Linked DNA regions of Homo sapiens: region 2 is linked to region 1. Evidence: fine-mapped expression QTL. A gene starts in region 1. The other region holds a variant in brackets. All regions are shown on one strand. Distances are between the middles of the regions.

Region 1 (8,328 bases):
CTTCAGGCTTTGGGTCGGGCAGGGCACTTTCAGGGCAGGCTGGCTTCTCCTGCCCAGGGCACCCCTCCTCCAGGTGCAGGGCTCCAGATTGGGACACTGTGCCTCTGCCTCCCCTAAGGCCCCATTCAGTTACCTCCCCACCTCTCAGCAATGCTCTCCCTCCCTCTTCCTGAAGTGTGGCAGGGAGGCTGGAGCCACAGCTTTGGCCTCTGGGAGCACTCAGTCCCACTCCCATAGGACAGAGTTGAACCATGATTGTGTCTAGAGAAGCCAAGGGTTATTGTCAGGGGCACAACAGCCCCCAAACTGTCCCTCTCCCCATCAATATCCCATATACAGGCTGAGTTCCCTGTGCCTCACTGAGAACAGGGCTGTATCTGGTTGTCTATGGCGTGTATGTAGCTGTGCCTGGGCAATGGGAAATATAGCTTGCTTCCTGCTTTCTCTCAGCCTCTGTCCCCAGAGTCATTTTGTTCTGGGACTGGAGTCTTCCTTCTGTCCTCATCCCTTCCCCTCTGTTTACACAGGTCAAGGCCAGGCATTGGCCACCAAACTGACTTCTCAGGAATGGGCAAGCCTGGGTTACTTGAGAGACTTGGCTTTTTGAATTTTCATTTCACAGCTCTCTGCTCCTTCAGACGTCATGGGGGTGGGGTGGGGAGGACCTAAAGTCCAGTGGTCAGTGCGTGAGGGCCCAGACCCAAAGGCCCGGGGCCACAGTCTGGTGCGGTTAGGCTCCTCCCTGCCTCTGCCCGTGTTTGCACCCCCAGGCCTGCCCTGGGATTTTGGCTGAGGTCACAGTCCAGCATGACCCCACTGAACACTATCCTGTGCCCTGCCCCAGCAGGCAGGGTTTCAAATGCCTTTGCTCCCATCCTTTGTGATACAGGTGACAGAACTGGGGCCCAAAGAAGGGTAAACCTTAGACTGAGTTCCAAATTGGCCATCTTTATTGGAGATCCTAACTCCCACACTCCTCTCCATGTGGCCATTTCCAGTCACTGGATGTTTAATCAATGACAGATATTAGCAGATAAATGGCAGTCATGGAAAATGCCTCAGACAAGGCATGGATTGAAATCCTGGTTTTGCTACTTTGTAACCTCACACAGGTGTCCAAGCCTGTGGATTTAATAAGCCTATGTTCAAAAAGCAATTAGCATGGTCCCTGACAAGCAAGAGCTCAGAAAGATTCTGGCTACAATTGTTATTACTGGTACCTCTTTGGAGGCCAAGCTTCGGGCCCAAGGCAGGTAGGGGACTCCTCCTTACCTTCAAAGAATTTTCATGGCGGGAGGTGGTGGCGAGGGGACAAGTAGTGAGATGAGCAAATAAAAGCTATTTCTGTGCATTGTGGTCACTGTGGCCATAGGAGGGGTCCCAAAGCCAGATGAAGGACCCAAAGCCAGGCCACAGAGTACATCTGTCCTGTGCATGCACTGCAAAAAGGCACCTAGCAAAGGGAGCTAGGAAGCTGAAAGGCAGTCTGTGACCTCCTTCATGGTTTCCTGTATCTGCCAAAAGTGGGTACCTTTTTCTGATTTGCACAAAGGCTAGTGGTGGCCCTGTAGGTATGGCCCAAACTCAGGCTGGAAGTGGCAGTCTGAGATGGTTCCCAGGTGATATGTGCTCCTGGTCTTCCATGAGGAGTTCATGAGGTGAGCTTGATGAGGCCTATCTTGGCAGAGGGAATGGTACATGCAAAGCTCTGGAAATCTGGAGAGGAGTCTTGGGGTGTCAGAGGGAACTGCCAGTGTTAGATGGCATTGGTCAGCAGGGCCTGGCAGGGAAGAGAGTCAGTTAGGGAAGCCAGGCTGAGTAGGGTAGTCTGTGAGGAACCACTGCAGGATGTGAAGCAGATGAGCCTCACTGGAGGCTGTGGAAAGCCTCCCTAGAATAGCACATGGCCTCAGGGGTTTGAGAACAGCTCTGATGCCAATCTCATTTCAGTTTCCTCATCTGAATAATGGGGATGACATTATTGCAGGGGCTGCTATAAGGGCTAAATAAGATAATGTACCTTAACTGTTTAGCACAATGCCCTGCTCAGGGTAAGGGCTGCACAAATACCAGCCATGGGTATTATCAGCAGGATCCAGGAGAGCACACTCCAGGGTCCCGGGTGGACGCACCCCTCCCTAGAAGACAAGGCTGGTGATGCAGGGGCCATCTCCCCCAGCGGTGCTGGAGACTGAAGGAGCTTCTTCCTGACTTGAAGGCTGATTGGTTCAAAAAACTCAGCAAAAAGTTTAATAGCAAGGTGAGACTTCAATTCTCCTTTTTGAGGTAGGCAGAGGTGGGAGAATAGTGAACCAAGCTTCCCTTCTTCTTGGGGAAGGGGGCTGTGGTGGGGACAGTCTCACCCAAGGGCAGAGATCCTCACCCCATCCTTCCTGGATGTCCCCCGCTTGTCTCATTGGCATCTGTGGTGGAGAGTTCTTTGTGGATGGCTTGCACATGACATTTTCTGTTTCTGTAACACTTTCTGTGTGGACAATTCTGTCCTTTTCCTCTGTGGCTCCCATATGGGTTGGATAGGTGACAGTCTAGGTCTCCCTCCCAAGGTGTTAATTTCCAGCAAGGGAAAACTCCAAGATCCACCCCCTAAACTGGGCCAGACAAGTCAACACCCCTTCCCTGAGGAAGCCATCACCACTGGGACCACCTGGCCTTCCTCCATTGCAGCCTGTGGATCCCTGGCCTCCCGCCTGAGTTGGGGGTGGGGGTGGAGGCATAAGTCTGAAAAAAAAGTGGGTAATAGTCAGCAGTTCCCTAAAGTAGAATTACTACCCACCCTCTGCCATGGACCCCAGCATAAAGCTTTTTGTGGGGCGTGCATGACCTGACTCTGTACTGGCGTTAGGCTTCAGGAGATCTGTGGAATAGAGTTTGACTTCATGGATCCTAACCCTCTGAGACCTGCTGCTGACTCCCAGGGAGCAGGTCCTCCCTCACAGTCTGTGCCTCAGCTTCCCCAGAAAAGGTAGATGGAGGTGAGTTAAATGCTTGGAGATCCTACACCTGGGCTTTTGCTTCCTTTTTCCTTGCACGGTCAGTGCCCAACACAGTGCCTGACATTCACACTGAGGCCCAGCATACCTATCTTTAAGCAGTTTGGAAGTGATCTTCTGGGGGTGATGGGCGTCTTAAAACGGTTTCCATAGCAAGCACCTTACTTTTACTCACATGGGATGTTTGTTTGGAGGGGGGCATTAAAAGGACTGCTGGCAAGGAGGAGAGAGACTAAACGCCTCCCCAAGGGAGCCATTTCTTGGCATAGTAGTTAAGGGAGACCACTTCTCAGCATTCGGAAGGAACTGGTTGGGAGCAGGTGTCCACGATGTCTGGGGAGGGGTCACTTCGTGTGGTCTTGGATATCAGGAGTGGCAGAGAGGCAACACATTCCAGATGAGCTCTGCCCTTTGACACCTCCCCCCACCCCACCCCGGCTGGGTCAAGGCCCCAAGGCCACATATAGAAGGCGTGGAAGGTGGGCACCAGCTGCTGCTGCCAGGAGATCCATGCTCCATAAGCCCTCGCGCCAGCCTCGGAGACAGCCAGGCTGCGCAGAGCAGAGGAGAGGAAGCAGCGAGGTGGGAGACAGTTTCGCTTCTCCCACCGAGGCCGCGCCTGTGGCTGCAGGCGCCCGGATCGCCACAGTTAACTCCCTGTTATCTGGGCCCCAATCGATCTCAGGCTGTAACGTTTAACCCTAGGCTGACTTCCCCAACCGCCCTCCCCCTCTCCCTCCCCTGCTTGGGTCTGGGGACTGCGTTTTCTTCGCCTCGCAGAGGAAGGTCGGCCTTGCACAAATCCGCCCCCACGAATCCCAAAGAATTGGAGAAAACTTCCACTTTGGGATTATATGCAGTTGGGATTATATGAGCCCGGGGCTTGCACCATGGGTACGTGAGGTGAAGACATCTGCAGCAGCAGGATTAATTAGCCTAAGATGGGCATATGGAGGCCACTGATGGAGTGAAAGCGGGATATGCGGGCCCAACTCTGTCCCCACTGGGCGCCTACTCTGGCAAGGCTGAGTTTTCCTTCTGTCTTTCAATCAGTACCTATTGAGCGCTGCTGTTCCAAGCATTGTTTCGGGTTTTGAGTGCGTAGGCCATGGTCTCAGGGCACCAAATGTACGTAGTCGTTTTAGCCCCGGGACTCAAGAGTTGAGGCTGATGCCTGCCTGAGAGATAAAATATCCTTTCTCGGATCAGTTTCCTCACCTGAGAAATGGGAACGGGAATCTCCGCCCCTTTTCTCCCGGGGCCCTAGTGCCCACTGAATCCATTAAGGAGCTCTTGGAAGGGTGGGGTCTTGGAACACGCGTCTACCTCCCAGGACCCTCGACTAGGAATCTCTGGCCCGCCGCGCACCTGAGCTGGGGGGCGCGGCCAAATTCTCCCTCCCGGTCCTCGAAGCTTCTGGCCCCGCTCTAGAGGGGGCAGAAAGATAGCAGATTTCCCCGGAGGTGCGTCTCTAAACCCAGACCGCCTCACCAAAGCGGGGAGGTCGTCCTTTTTTTTTTTTTTTTGTAAAGTTGCGGGAAATAGGCGAAGACGGGGCGCGCAAGGGAGCTGAGCCTGGGTGGACCGCGTCAGGGCGCGGGGAGCTCGAGGCGCAGCGGCTGCAGCTCCGGCCTCAGAGCCCGCGGCGTCCAAGTGGCCCGAGCTGCGCTGGGAGGGAGGCGGCGGGAGGAGGGAGGGGAGCCGAGGTGGAGGGGGTTGGGGGGAGGAGGGAGCGGCGAGTCCGGTCCGGGTTTTGCCGGCAGCCCCCGGGCAGCGTTCATAGCTCCTGCCCGGGCGGGCGCGCGGCGGCGGCGGCAGAGGCGGCTGAGCCTGAGCGGGGATGTAGAGGCGGCGGCAGCAGAGGCGGCACTGGCGGCAAGAGCAGACGCCCGAGCCGAGCGAGAAGAGCGGCAGAGCCTTATCCCCTGAAGCCGGGCCCCGCGTCCCAGCCCTGCCCAGCCCGCGCCCAGCCATGCGCGCCGCCTGCTGAGTCCGGGCGCCGCACGCTGAGCCCTCCGCCCGCGAGCCGCGCTCAGCTCGGGGGTGATTAGTTGCTTTTTGTTGTTTTTTAATTTGGGCCGCGGGGAGGGGGAGGAGGGGCAGGTGCTGCAGGCTCCCCCCCCTCCCCGCCTCGGGCCAGCCGCGGCGGCGCGACTCGGGCTCCGGACCCGGGCACTGCTGGCGGCTGGAGCGGAGCGCACCGCGGCGGTGGTGCCCAGAGCGGAGCGCAGCTCCCTGCCCCGCCCCTCCCCCTCGGCCTCGCGGCGACGGCGGCGGTGGCGGCTTGGACGACTCGGAGAGCCGGTAGGTGTCGGGCCACGGCCCTCCCTCGACCCCCCCCGGAGGCCGGCCCCCTCCCCTTCCCCGCCTACCTCCCTCTCCTCCCCCGGGGTTCGGTGCGCGGCCGGGGCCGGAGTTCGCTGCAAGTCGGCGGAAAGTTTGGCTGCGCGGGTTCCCCCGAAGTTCAGGTGCGGAGAGCCGGGGACGGGGAAGGAGGGGTCCGTATTTGGGAGGGGCGGGGGGCGCCCGCACCGTAAGCCGCGGAGCCCCGGAGCCTGGGAGACCTAGCGCCGGTGATCGCTTGGTGGCCGCTGCTATACCCAAGCCTCCCTAAGCCGCAGTATGCTCGGTCGCAGATCACTGAGTTCAGACAAAAAGAGGGGTTTTAGGGTCTGGGACGGCGGCTTGGGCGCCGTGGAGTGGGGCTGGGACGCTCCTTGCGGGGTGCCGCCCCCCTCCCCCCCACTACTCCAGTTCGCGGGCGCTGGGGCAGCGGGCGCCCGGGGTCCTCACCTCTTGGCGTTGGGCGGGCGCTCAGCCTGCGGGGGCGGCTGCTTGTAGATCTCTGGCGCGCACTCCCCCCATCAGACCCCGCTCGCAGCCCTGTGTTGAGGGGCGACGTTAACTGCTCTGGGCGCCCTCGACCACGCGTGGCTGAGCCTCCCCCACCACTTGGAAGAAGCGGCGGCTACTTCTGCATTTTTCCTCCGGCTCCTCGCCCCCGCTGCCCGCGGGGTGCCCGGCGGGCTGATGAAGTTTGACCTTTTTTTTCCATCAAAGTATCTCCCCCACCACCACGGTGCCCCGCGGCCCCTCCCTCCCTCCTTTCCCAGCCTTGGGGAGTCTTTTGAGCTGTCTCCCGAGCCCCGCGTGGGCCACGCAGCGTGCAGAGCCTGGGAGGGAGAATGGGGGTGTTCCTCTAGCTGCGGAACTGTGGGGGGCGTACGTCCCCGGCGCCTGCCACGCTGCACTGGCCCCAAATTTACCCATGAAGTTCGGCCCGACCCCCCTCCCCTTCGCTTCCCCGGAGCGGAGTGAGGGGCTGAACCGCCGCGAGAGGAATGTGTTAATTTTCTGGCTGGGGGAAGTTGTCCTCGCCCGGAATGGGCTGCTTTCCGGCGGGGAGCGCGGGGTGCGCCTGGCTTTGTTTATTTGTAGGATCGACGGAAAGCGAGTGACCCCGGTTTTTAAATGGGGGGCCACCTTCGGGACCTGTCAGAAGAGCTGAAACGCCCAAAGTGGGAGCAAGATCTCTTTTTGTTCTTTTTTCCCCCCCGGGAATCTGAAGGGGTGCGCGGAGTTGGGCTGGTGCCTCGGGCTGCAAGGAAGCACCAGTAAATTTGGGGGGTTCTGTAGTGACTCATTCGGAAAGACCCGCTCCCTGAAGTCTCCCGCGACGGGGGTCTGAAGGTTTGGCAACCGCGCCCTCCTTTGCCCCCTGGACTTTGGGTGGTCTGAGAGTCGCGCCTTCGGATGGGGGGGGAGCTAAGGGGGTGACCAGCGGACCAGACTCCTGACCCCCACCTTTCCTCGCGCGGCGGGCGCTGTTTGGAGCCCTTGGATTTGTGGTGGGCCCTGTCCCCCCCACCCCCGCATTTTCTTTGGAAGCGTTGGGGAGGGGGCGTGTGTGAGATCGCTCGGCCCTCGCCCCCGCCGGAGCCGCCCCAGGGCCGCCGGCAAACAGAGTCCCTTTCAAGTTTTCCGCTGGGGCCGCCTGGCGGGGGCTGCGAGCGCGGTCGCTGCGGACTTGTTTGGAGCGCGATTTGAACGCCCGGCTCCACCTCAGCTGCCCCAGGCCGCGGGGTGGGGGGCGTCTGTCCTTTGCAGTTGGGAGTATTTAAATTAGACGTCTTGGGGGACCTACTGGCCTAAGCTTCACCTGATCCCCCTCCTGAAAGATGCCCGTGCCTTGGTTTCCAACCGCCACTAGAAAACCGGGAACTGAGACCGAAGCCCCCTCTAAACCCCTTTCTGAGAGCCGTGCGGGGAAACTCAGGCCGGCGGGCTACCTACCCGTAACTGCGTATTGTTGATTTAGCAGTTTCCCTAGATGAGAGTCAGGCTGGAGCTTGGGGGGGTGGGGAGTGGCCCGCTCTGCAGCTGTCACCCCCCTCCCAGAACGGAAATTGTCCTCTCCTTGGGGAGGAGGGAGAGGGGGTGATGGTTTGATTTTTGCCCTGGGAAGAGATGGGAACAGCTGAAGGAGATTGGCCTCCGAGTTCCCAGCCAGCCCCCGGAACTTGGGTAGAACCCCCCTACCCCTCATCCTCGCAGTAGCTGGGTCTCTCCCAGGGACGCCCCTAGTCAGCCTTGGCCTCCCTCTCCATGCCACCTCCCTTTCCAAGGTGAGCCTCTGCAGAAGACAGACCCTTGGCTGGCTGGCTGTCGGGTTGGTGCCTTATTTATGTGTGTATCTGGTCCTGGCCGTTTTCCCCGCTCAGCAGGTGACCCTGGCCAGGGCCTCCTATCTCTCCCGCGACAGAGCCTGTTGACTTACCCGAGGGCCAGTGGCCTCGTCTTTATCACGTGAGGCCTGGAATGTCCACCCAGCTGGGCTAGGCTGGGCTGGGCTGGGCTGGGGTGGGTGGGGGAAGGGGAGGGGAGGATTCTGCATCCAGGGCACCGGCCAGCACAGGCCCATGTTCCATGGGTTCCCACTGTGACCCTCAACTCTTGCTGCCCCTTTCCTGCTCTGCCTGCCTCCTACTCATTTGGCACATGTGAAACTGAGACCCATAGGAGTGTGGGGGCAGGCTTGTATCTGGGTGAAGAAACAAGTCCAGGGGAATGAAATACCCTGCCTTCTTCAGGACTGACTGCACCTTGTTGTTTATGGGAGGATGGAGTGGAGGGAGTCTTGCTAGGAGGGAGAGAGGGATGTGGGCTGGGCTGACTTTCCAGGTTGCAGGATAGGGTGGAGGAATGAGGGAATACGGGTGAGCCAGACCCAAGCCTGGGTTCCTAGAGCCCCTGTCTGGTGGCTTGATCATTTAGTCCGAATTAACAAGCATGATGCTCTGGGGCATGCCCTAATTGA
Region 2 (8,328 bases), 76 kb before region 1:
CTTTGAAAATGTCTGAGATTGGGAAGTTACCGAAGCATGATCTTAAAGAAAGTAGTTGTAACGCTGAACAGTACTGTATTTTAAAAAATTGCTTAGGCTGGGTGCGGTGGCTTATGCCTGTAATCCCCCAGTACTTTGGGAGGCTGAGGCGGGCCGACCACCTGAGGTCAGGAGTTCGAGACCAGCCTGCCCAATATGGTGAAACCCTGTCTCTACTAAAAATACAAAAATTAGCCAGGTGTGGTGGCACTCACCTGTAATCCCAGCTACTCAGGAGGCTGAGGCAGGAGAGTTGCTTGAACCTGGGAGGCAGAGGTTGCAGTGAGCCAAGATCTCGCCACTGCACTCCAGCCTTTGCAACAGCGAGACTCCATCTCAAAAAAAAAAAAATTGCTTAAAAATACTGTAGGCCGGGCTGGGCGCTGTGGCTCATGCCTGTAATCCCAGCACTTTGGGAGGCCAAGACAGGTGGATCACAAGGTCAGGAAATCGAGACCATCCTGGCTAACACGGTGAAACCCCATCTCTACTAAAAATACAAAAAATTAGTCAGTGTGGTGGCAGGTGCCTGTAGTCCCAGCTATTCGGGAGACTGAGGCAGGAGAATGGCGTGAACCGGGAGGCAGAGCTTGCAGTAAGTGGAGATCGCGCCGCTGCATTCTAGCCTGGGCGACAGAGCGAAACTCTGTCTAGAAAAAGAAAAAAATGAAAATAAAAAATACTGTAGGCCGGGCGCGGTGACTCACGCCTGTAATCCCAGCATTTTGGGATGCCGAGGTGAGTGGATCACGAGGTCAGGAGTTCAATACCAGCCTAGTCAAGATGGTGAAACCCTGTCTCTACTAAAAATATAAAAATTAGCCGGGCATGGTGGTGAGCACCTGTGATCCCAGTTACTGGGGAGGCTAAGGCAGAGAGTTGCTTGAACCCGGGAGGTGGAGGTTGTGGTGAGCTGAGATCGCACCACTGCAGTCCAGCTTGGGCAACAGAGCAAGACTCCGTCTCAAAAAAGAAAAAAAAATACTGTACTAGAGGTGTGGTACCATATATTAGATTAATATTAGAGGTAAGGACTGATTGAATTCCTATCAAAATGATGAATTAACAGGTAGTCCTGTGGAGTATTGGGAACTTTAATAAATGGTTGTCTGAATATGGCTATTTAAATTAGTTCTATCTTGGATAGTTCTATCTTGGATACCTTCTTACTCCAAAAGGTGAGCTTCTTCACATAAGTTCTGGGAATTTTTTTTTCCCCACTAAAAAAGTATTTTTTATTTCCTTTACAAAAGATCATTGAATTAAGGCACTTTCTTTGGCTCTACTAGATTGTTATTTAAATATAATTCAAACAGCCATCGAGGATAACTGTTAATAAATCTAGGTTTTCTCTGAAGTCTCCCAGTGTATATTACTGTACTGATGACTGACAAGGAAGAGGTTTTGACAAGGTCCAATTCTGTATATTTCTCTTAAAATATCCTAGGCAGTTCCCAGGATAGGAGTATCTGACTCATGCCTCATGCTACCAGGAACCTTTGCAGCCTCATCCCAGAAATGCAGAAACACACTTGTTTTGTCTGTAGAAATAAAGTTTTGATGGTTAGATTTCCAGGCAAACCTTCAAAATCATGTTAAACTATAATATAGGGAAATAAAGTAGTGTTTGTTCTTCTGTCTGCAGAGTCAAGTGAGATTTTGGGTAATAGAATCATAAAATGTTAGCACTGCAGCACATCTCAGGGCTGCTGTCTGGAAAGGCCGTGTGACCTACCAGGTAAGAGTAGGTCTGAATTGAGAACCTGGATTTCTGGACTGTCCAGTGTATTTTCTGGCAAGCCATGTGTTATCCTTACATAGCTGTTAGGTATATAAATCCAGAGGATGCAGCCTTTTTTCTTTTGTTCAAACAATTGGATATTTAAACTGTGTCCTGGAACCTGAAGATCTTCCTCAACTTCCCTTTATATGATTGGCAAGGTTGCTCATACTGCTTGAAACTGCAAATTTAGGCTTGACACAGTGGCTCATGCCTGTAATCCCAACACTGGGAGGCCAAGGTGGGAGGATTGCTTGTACCTAGGAGTTCAAGACCAGCTTGGTCTGTAATGGGAGACCCTGTCTCTACAAAAGCGAAACAAAGTGAAACAAAATTAGCTGGGCATGGTGATGTGTGCCTGTAGTCCTAGCTACTCAGGAGGCTGAGACAGGAGGATCACTTGAGCCTGGATGAAAGGTTAAGGCTACGGTGAGCTGTGATCATACCACTGCACTCCAGCCTGGGCAGCAGAGCCAGATTCTGTGTCAAAACAACAACAACAACAACAAAACAACTATTGCAAATTTGGTGTTCTATTCTCACCACCACCACCACCCCGCCTTTTTTTCCCCCGAAACGGAGTCTCTACCTCTGTCGCCCAGGCTGAAGTGCAGTTGTGCAATCTCGGCTCACCGCAACCTCTGCCTCCCAGGTTCAAGAGATTCTCCTGCCTCAGCCTCCCAAGTTGCTGGGACCACAGGTGCATGCCACCACGCCCGGCTAATTTTTGTTTTTTGTTTTTATTTGAGATGGAGTCTAGCTCTGACGCCCAGGCTGGAGTGCAGTTGTGTGATCTCGGCTCACTGCAACCTCTGCCTCCTGAGTTCAAGCAATTCTCCAGCTTCAGCCTCCAGAGTAGCTGAGACTACAGGCGCGTGCCATGATGCCCAGCTAATTTTTTGTATTTTTAGTAGAGATGGGGTCTCACTATGTTAGCCAGGATGGTCTCGATCTCCTGACCTCGTGATCCACCCACCTCGGCTGGTTTGGAACTCCTGACCTCAAGTGATCCACCTGCCTTGGCCTCCCAAAGTGTTGGGATTACAGGCATGAGCCACCACCCCCGGCTTTCTGCATATATCTTTCATCAGAGTCAAATGGATTTTGTTTTTTAAGTGAAAGCAAGTTTATTAGGAAAGTAAAGGAATAAAGAATGGCTACTCCCTAGGCAGAGCAGCCTCAAATGGGTTTTTAATCTCTAAAAAGACTAAAAACCACTGTCCTTCCACCTTAAACATTATTTTAATCTCAGCAGATGAACAGAGTACCTGTTCTGCAGAGAAAATATAAATCTTACGTGTGAGTTGTTAGGGATTTCCTTCAAGGTATTAAAACAACAGATCGGCTGGGCGCGGTGGCTCATGCCTGTAATCCCAGCACTTTGGGAGGCCGAGGCGGGTGGATCGTGAGGTCAGGAGATCGAGACCATCCTGGCCAACATGGTGAAACCCCATCTCTACTAAAAATACAAAAATTAGCCAGGCACAGTGGTGGGCACCTGTAATCCCAGCTACTTGGGAGGCTGAGGCAGGAGAATCACTTGAACCCAAGAGGCGGAGGTTGCAGTGTGCCGAGGTCGTGCCACTGTACTCTAGTCTGGGCGACAGAGCAAGACTCCCTCTCAAAAAAAAAAAAAAAAACAAACACAGATTTCAGCTATCCACTTTAGAGTACTCACTGTGCATCAGGAATTACTTGATCTTTTCAATAATCTTTCAATAATTCTGTTCTCCCCAGGTTAGATAAGGAAACAGTGGGAGAAATAAACTTGCCTAACATTATATGGTTATGGTAGGAAGAACTAGGATTCAGATACAGGCGATCTTGACTGTAGAGCTATTGTGTCTCCAGATTTACTTGTTTTAGTCATAGCCCTTCTCCCCTCTAATCTCTAGAGAAGCTTTACTTTTCCCTTTGCCAAACTTAACTTTTGCTTTCCATCCTTTTCTCTCTCTCTCTTTCCCTCTTTCCTTCCTTCTCTCCCTCCCTCCCTCACTTCCTCCTTCCCTCACTCACTTCCTCCCTCCTTCCTTCCTTTTTCCTTTTCTTGTTTTTGCTCTCCGGTAATTGTCTTTGTTTTCATACTTCCAATCTCTTCTCCACTAACTCCTCTTAGCATCCAAACTTATCGAAGGTTTTCCCCTATAAAAAAAAAAAAAGCAGTAAAATAACTTTTTAAACTTCCCTCTTCCATAAGAGCTACTTCCTTCCTCATCTTTATCCTTCCCATCTCTGACATTTCAGTCCCAGAATTCTTGAAAGAATAGTCTATTCACTGTTCTGGAACTATTTAGTAAGGTCACTAATGATTACTTAATTGCCACATTCAGTGGATACCTAAGTTTTTATTTAACTTTCGTAATAGTTGACATGATTTTCATTCAGTTCCTTTGGCTTCTGATAAACTGCTTTCTTCTTCCTCATATCTGGTGTTTCCCAACTTTATTAGAATGCTTATCAAAGTAGTATTGTTGATGGAGTACAAGCCAAAGTGTATGAAATCATGCATACTTGTATTAAAATTGAGAGCACTGGCTGGATATGGTGGCTCATGCCTGTAATCCCAGCACTTTGGGAAGCCAAGGCAGGAGGATCACTTGAGCTCAGGAGTTCAATACCAGCCTGTGCAATATAGCAAGACCCTGTGTCTACAAAAAATTAAATTAGCTAGGTGCAGTGGCATGTGCCTGTAATCCCTGCTACTCAAAAGGCCAAGACAGGAGGAT[C/T]GCTTGAGCCCAGGAGTTTAAGGCTGCAGTGAGCTGTGATCATGCCAGTGCACTCCAGCTTGGGCCACAGAGCGAGATCTGTCTCTTAAAAAAAAAAATTGACAGCACAAATTACCTCAGATAAATTAATTATTATTCTTTTTTTTTTTTTTTTGAGACAGAGACTTGCTCTGTTGCCCAGGCTGTAGTGCAATGGCGTGATCTCAGCTCACTGCAACCTCCGCCTCTCAGGCCCAAGCAATTCTCCTGCCTCAGCCTCCCAAGAAAAGAAGCTGGGATTACAGGCATGCACCACCGTGCCTGGCTGATTTTTGTATTTTTAGCAGGTTTCACCATGTTGACCAGGCTGGTCTTGAACTCCTGGCCTCAAGTGATCCACCCGCCTAAGCCTTTCAATGTGCTGGGATTGCAGGTGTGAGCCACCATGCCCCACCTGATCTCAGATAAATTAATTAAAATATATAATCAAAATAATGTCACAAACAGAATTATTAAGAATTATCAAGATGAGGCTGGGCGCGGTGGCTCATGCCTGTAATCCCAGCTCTTTGGGAGGCCGAGACGGGCAGATCATGAGGTCAGGAGATCGAGACCATCCTGGCTAACATGGTGAAACCCCATCTCCACTAAAAATACAAAAAAATTAGCCAGACGTGGTGGTGGGCACCTGTAGTCCCAGCTACTCAGGAGGCTGAGGCAGGACAATGGCGTGAACCTGGGAGGCGGAACTTGCAGTGAGCCGAGATCGCACCACTGTACTCCAGCCTGGACGACAGAGCGAAACTCCATCTCAAAAAAAAAAAGAAAAAAAAAAAAGTACTATCAAGATGAAACATCTGTCATTCTTATTTTGCTATCAGTTTTAAGAATAGTATTTTTCTTACATAATAAAAGTCATCCTCATCAGGTACTCCTTTAAATGTCTTACTGTATATTGTTTTCATTGCAGTATAATATGAAAATTTGTTTCCAACAGATACATTGTAGCAAAAGAAAGAATACAGACTGCATATTTTGCAGTTAGGCTGCTGCTGACATTATTAATTATCCCATCATGGATAGGTCACCCTAATTTTTCTGAAAAATGCCTGTTCTTTGCTTGTGTTTATTTTGAAATAATACGACTACTTGGGCTTAGGAATCAAAGGACTCTGCTTTCCATTTAAAATGTCTTTCTCGGCCGGGCGCAGTGGCTCAAGCTTGTAATCCCAGCACTTTGGGAGGCTGAGGCGGGCGAATCACGAGGTCAAGAGATCGAGACCATCCTGGCTAACACGGGGAAACCCCATCTCCACTAAAAATACAAAAAAAATTAGCCAGGTGTGGTGGCGGGTGCCTGTAATCCCAGCTACTTGAGAGGCTGAGGCAGGAGAATGGCTTGAACTCGGGAAGCGGAGCTTGCAGTGAGCTGAGATCACGCCACTGCGCTCCAGCCTGGGCGACAGAGCGAGACTGTCTCTAAATAAATAAATAAATAAATAATAAAAAATGTCTCTCTCCTAGATATAAGTCAATTGGGAATGAGTACACTTGAAATATTTAATATATAATAAGCTTCGATTAAATAACTTCTCTCTTTTTTTTTTTTGAGACGAAGTTTCGTTCTTGTTGCCCAGGCTGGAGTGCTATGGCGTGGTGGTGGGGGCCTGTAATCCCAGCCACTCAGGAGGCTGAGTCAGGAGAATTGCTTGAACCTGGGAGGCGGAGGTTGCAGTGAGCTGAGATTGCACACTGCACTCCAGCCTGGGCAACGAGAGTGAAACTCTGTCTCAAAAAAAAAAAAAAAAGTAAAATTTAGAAGAAAAATATTACTGTCTTTATTACTATAATACATATTAGTAATTAGTATCTCCTGGGGAATGCTGCTGTAGTTGTAACGCTTGTAGTTGGTCCTTCCTAGAATCATGTTCTCCGGTCTTTGTTCAGTGCCTTTGCTTATACAGAGAATCTCTTCTCACCCCATCCCCTACCTCCTAAATTCTTTATTCATACTTGGGGACCCAGCAGAAATGGCTTCTCTAGGAAGCATGCATGAGGCATACAGGCAGTCAGAGTTCAACTGTAGAATCGTTTCTTAGTGTGTAGACATGATTGATTATTCCCCTATTTAGACTGAACTCTCCTGGGCAAAGTTCTTGTCTTATTCTTCGTATTCCTAGTACCTAAAGCATGGTATTCTGTGTTTGCCAACAACATTCAGTGAATGCCAATATCAGGTGGGGTGGCAAAAAAAAAAAAAAAAAAGAAAAGAAAAGGTGGAATTTTGGAGCATTTGTGGCCTTAGGCAAGTCACTTTGCGAATTTTCCTGAGCCTCAGCTTCCTTGTCTGTAGAATGGGAATTGTACCCTGCAAGCCTGTGGGGAAGATTAGATAGAAGAGGGTTTAGCATTTTGGACTACATAAAAGATAATTTTGTTGTTATTTTTTACAAATGTGCTTGGCAGTTTTATTCACAGTACCCGATACTTAGAAACAACTCAGATATCCATCATTAGCTGAATATGTAAACAAAATGTAGAAAATCCATATACTGGATGGAGCATTACCCACCAATAAAAAGGAACAAATAGTGAAACAACCCTGCCACTTAGCAGTTTATTAGTTGGCTCCAAGTTCACCCTCCCGTACTTGCTCTGCTTTGACTAAATAACTTCTGAAGTATGTATTTCAGCTGGTGAAGAGCTGGACTCTTTCACCTTTGCAGTGAACAACATGTTGGGCTTTGTCAATAGAGGGCACTAGAGGGACATTACAGAGGAAAGGGGCTTCTTAGATTTGGTGGACTTTTCTTTTTTTAAGTTTTTAAATATTATCATGGTGTCTTAACATGCCAATAATGTTGACCTACGGAATTGGTATAATCTCAAAATCTTAGGTGTCAGTGTTAAATATATGTTTCACTTTTACTTCATCGTCACCCCAAGCAAAAAAAGAAAAACCTGAATGTGAAAAGAATGAAGTCTTATAATATTTCTAAACTAAAAAAGGGATTGAATCCCAGTATTCTTCAGCAAACTTCAAAATACTGTCACCTTAATATGTTTTTAATACATGTGATATTTTTGTAGGTCTAGAATTGTGAAATCAATTCTCTTAAACATCTTATTATAGAAGTGTCTGCTGCTATCCTTTGAGCACTAACCCCACCACCTGTAATGCATCATGCCAATATAAGTGATAGAATTGCTTTGCTAAATTCTTAAGGGCTTATGTCAGGGAAAAACTTTGAAATTAGCTGGGTACAGTGGCTCATGCCTATAATCTCAGTGCTTTGGGAGGCCAAGGTGGGAGAATCACTTGGCTGGGAGACCAGCCTGAGCAATTCAGCAAGACCCCTTCTCTACAAAAACTGCAAAACTTAGCCAGGTTTGGTGGCACACGCCTGTAGTCATAGCTACTGGGAAGACTGAGGTGGAAGAGGAGGATCTCTTGAGGCCCAGAGTTCAAGGCGGCAGTGAGCTATAATCTGCACTGCACTCCAGCCTAGGTGACAGAGCGAGATCCTGACTCAAAACAAGACAAGCCTTGAAATCAAAGTTGATTTTTACAAAAGCCTCAATGGTAGGAGTTTTAGATTTCTTAAAATAATAGCACACTAATGGAGTGCGTGATTTTCTTTAGATTAAATGTTTACATATTTATACCATCTGTATTAGTTTCCTAGGGTTGCCATAATAAATTACCACAAACCGGGTGGCTTAAAGTAACAGAACTATATTCTCTCACAGTTCTGGAGGCCAGCAGTCTAAAGTCAGTCTGTCTTCAGGTCCATACTCTGGATG

The links. PIP is the estimated chance that this variant, and not a neighbour inherited with it, causes the effect. A credible set is the group of variants that fine-mapping cannot tell apart.
Region 2: its variant is the best candidate, but not a certain one, in a credible set for the expression of CXXC5 in whole blood (INTERVAL, PIP 0.81).

Annotation. Positions count from the first base shown.
Region 1 is chr5:139,643,531-139,651,858 of GRCh38, forward strand. CXXC5 (CXXC finger protein 5) reads left to right here and starts at 4,819. Exons shown (of 3, transcript NM_016463.9): 1 at 4,819-5,315. It overlaps CXXC5-AS1 (CXXC5 antisense RNA 1), which reads right to left and starts at 6,198. Exons shown (of 2, transcript NR_149086.1): 1 at 5,805-6,198; 2 at 5,469-5,651. RefSeq lists silencers at 4,747-5,876, 6,077-6,246 and an enhancer at 7,039-7,539.
Region 2 is chr5:139,567,965-139,576,292 of GRCh38, forward strand. All of the region lies in intron 1 of UBE2D2 (ubiquitin conjugating enzyme E2 D2), which reads left to right. Among named protein-coding and RNA genes, the nearest start is that of UBE2D2, 11 kb to the left of the region's middle. RefSeq lists enhancers at 34-535, 7,784-7,913. The variant C/T (reference allele first, on the strand shown) is at 4,546.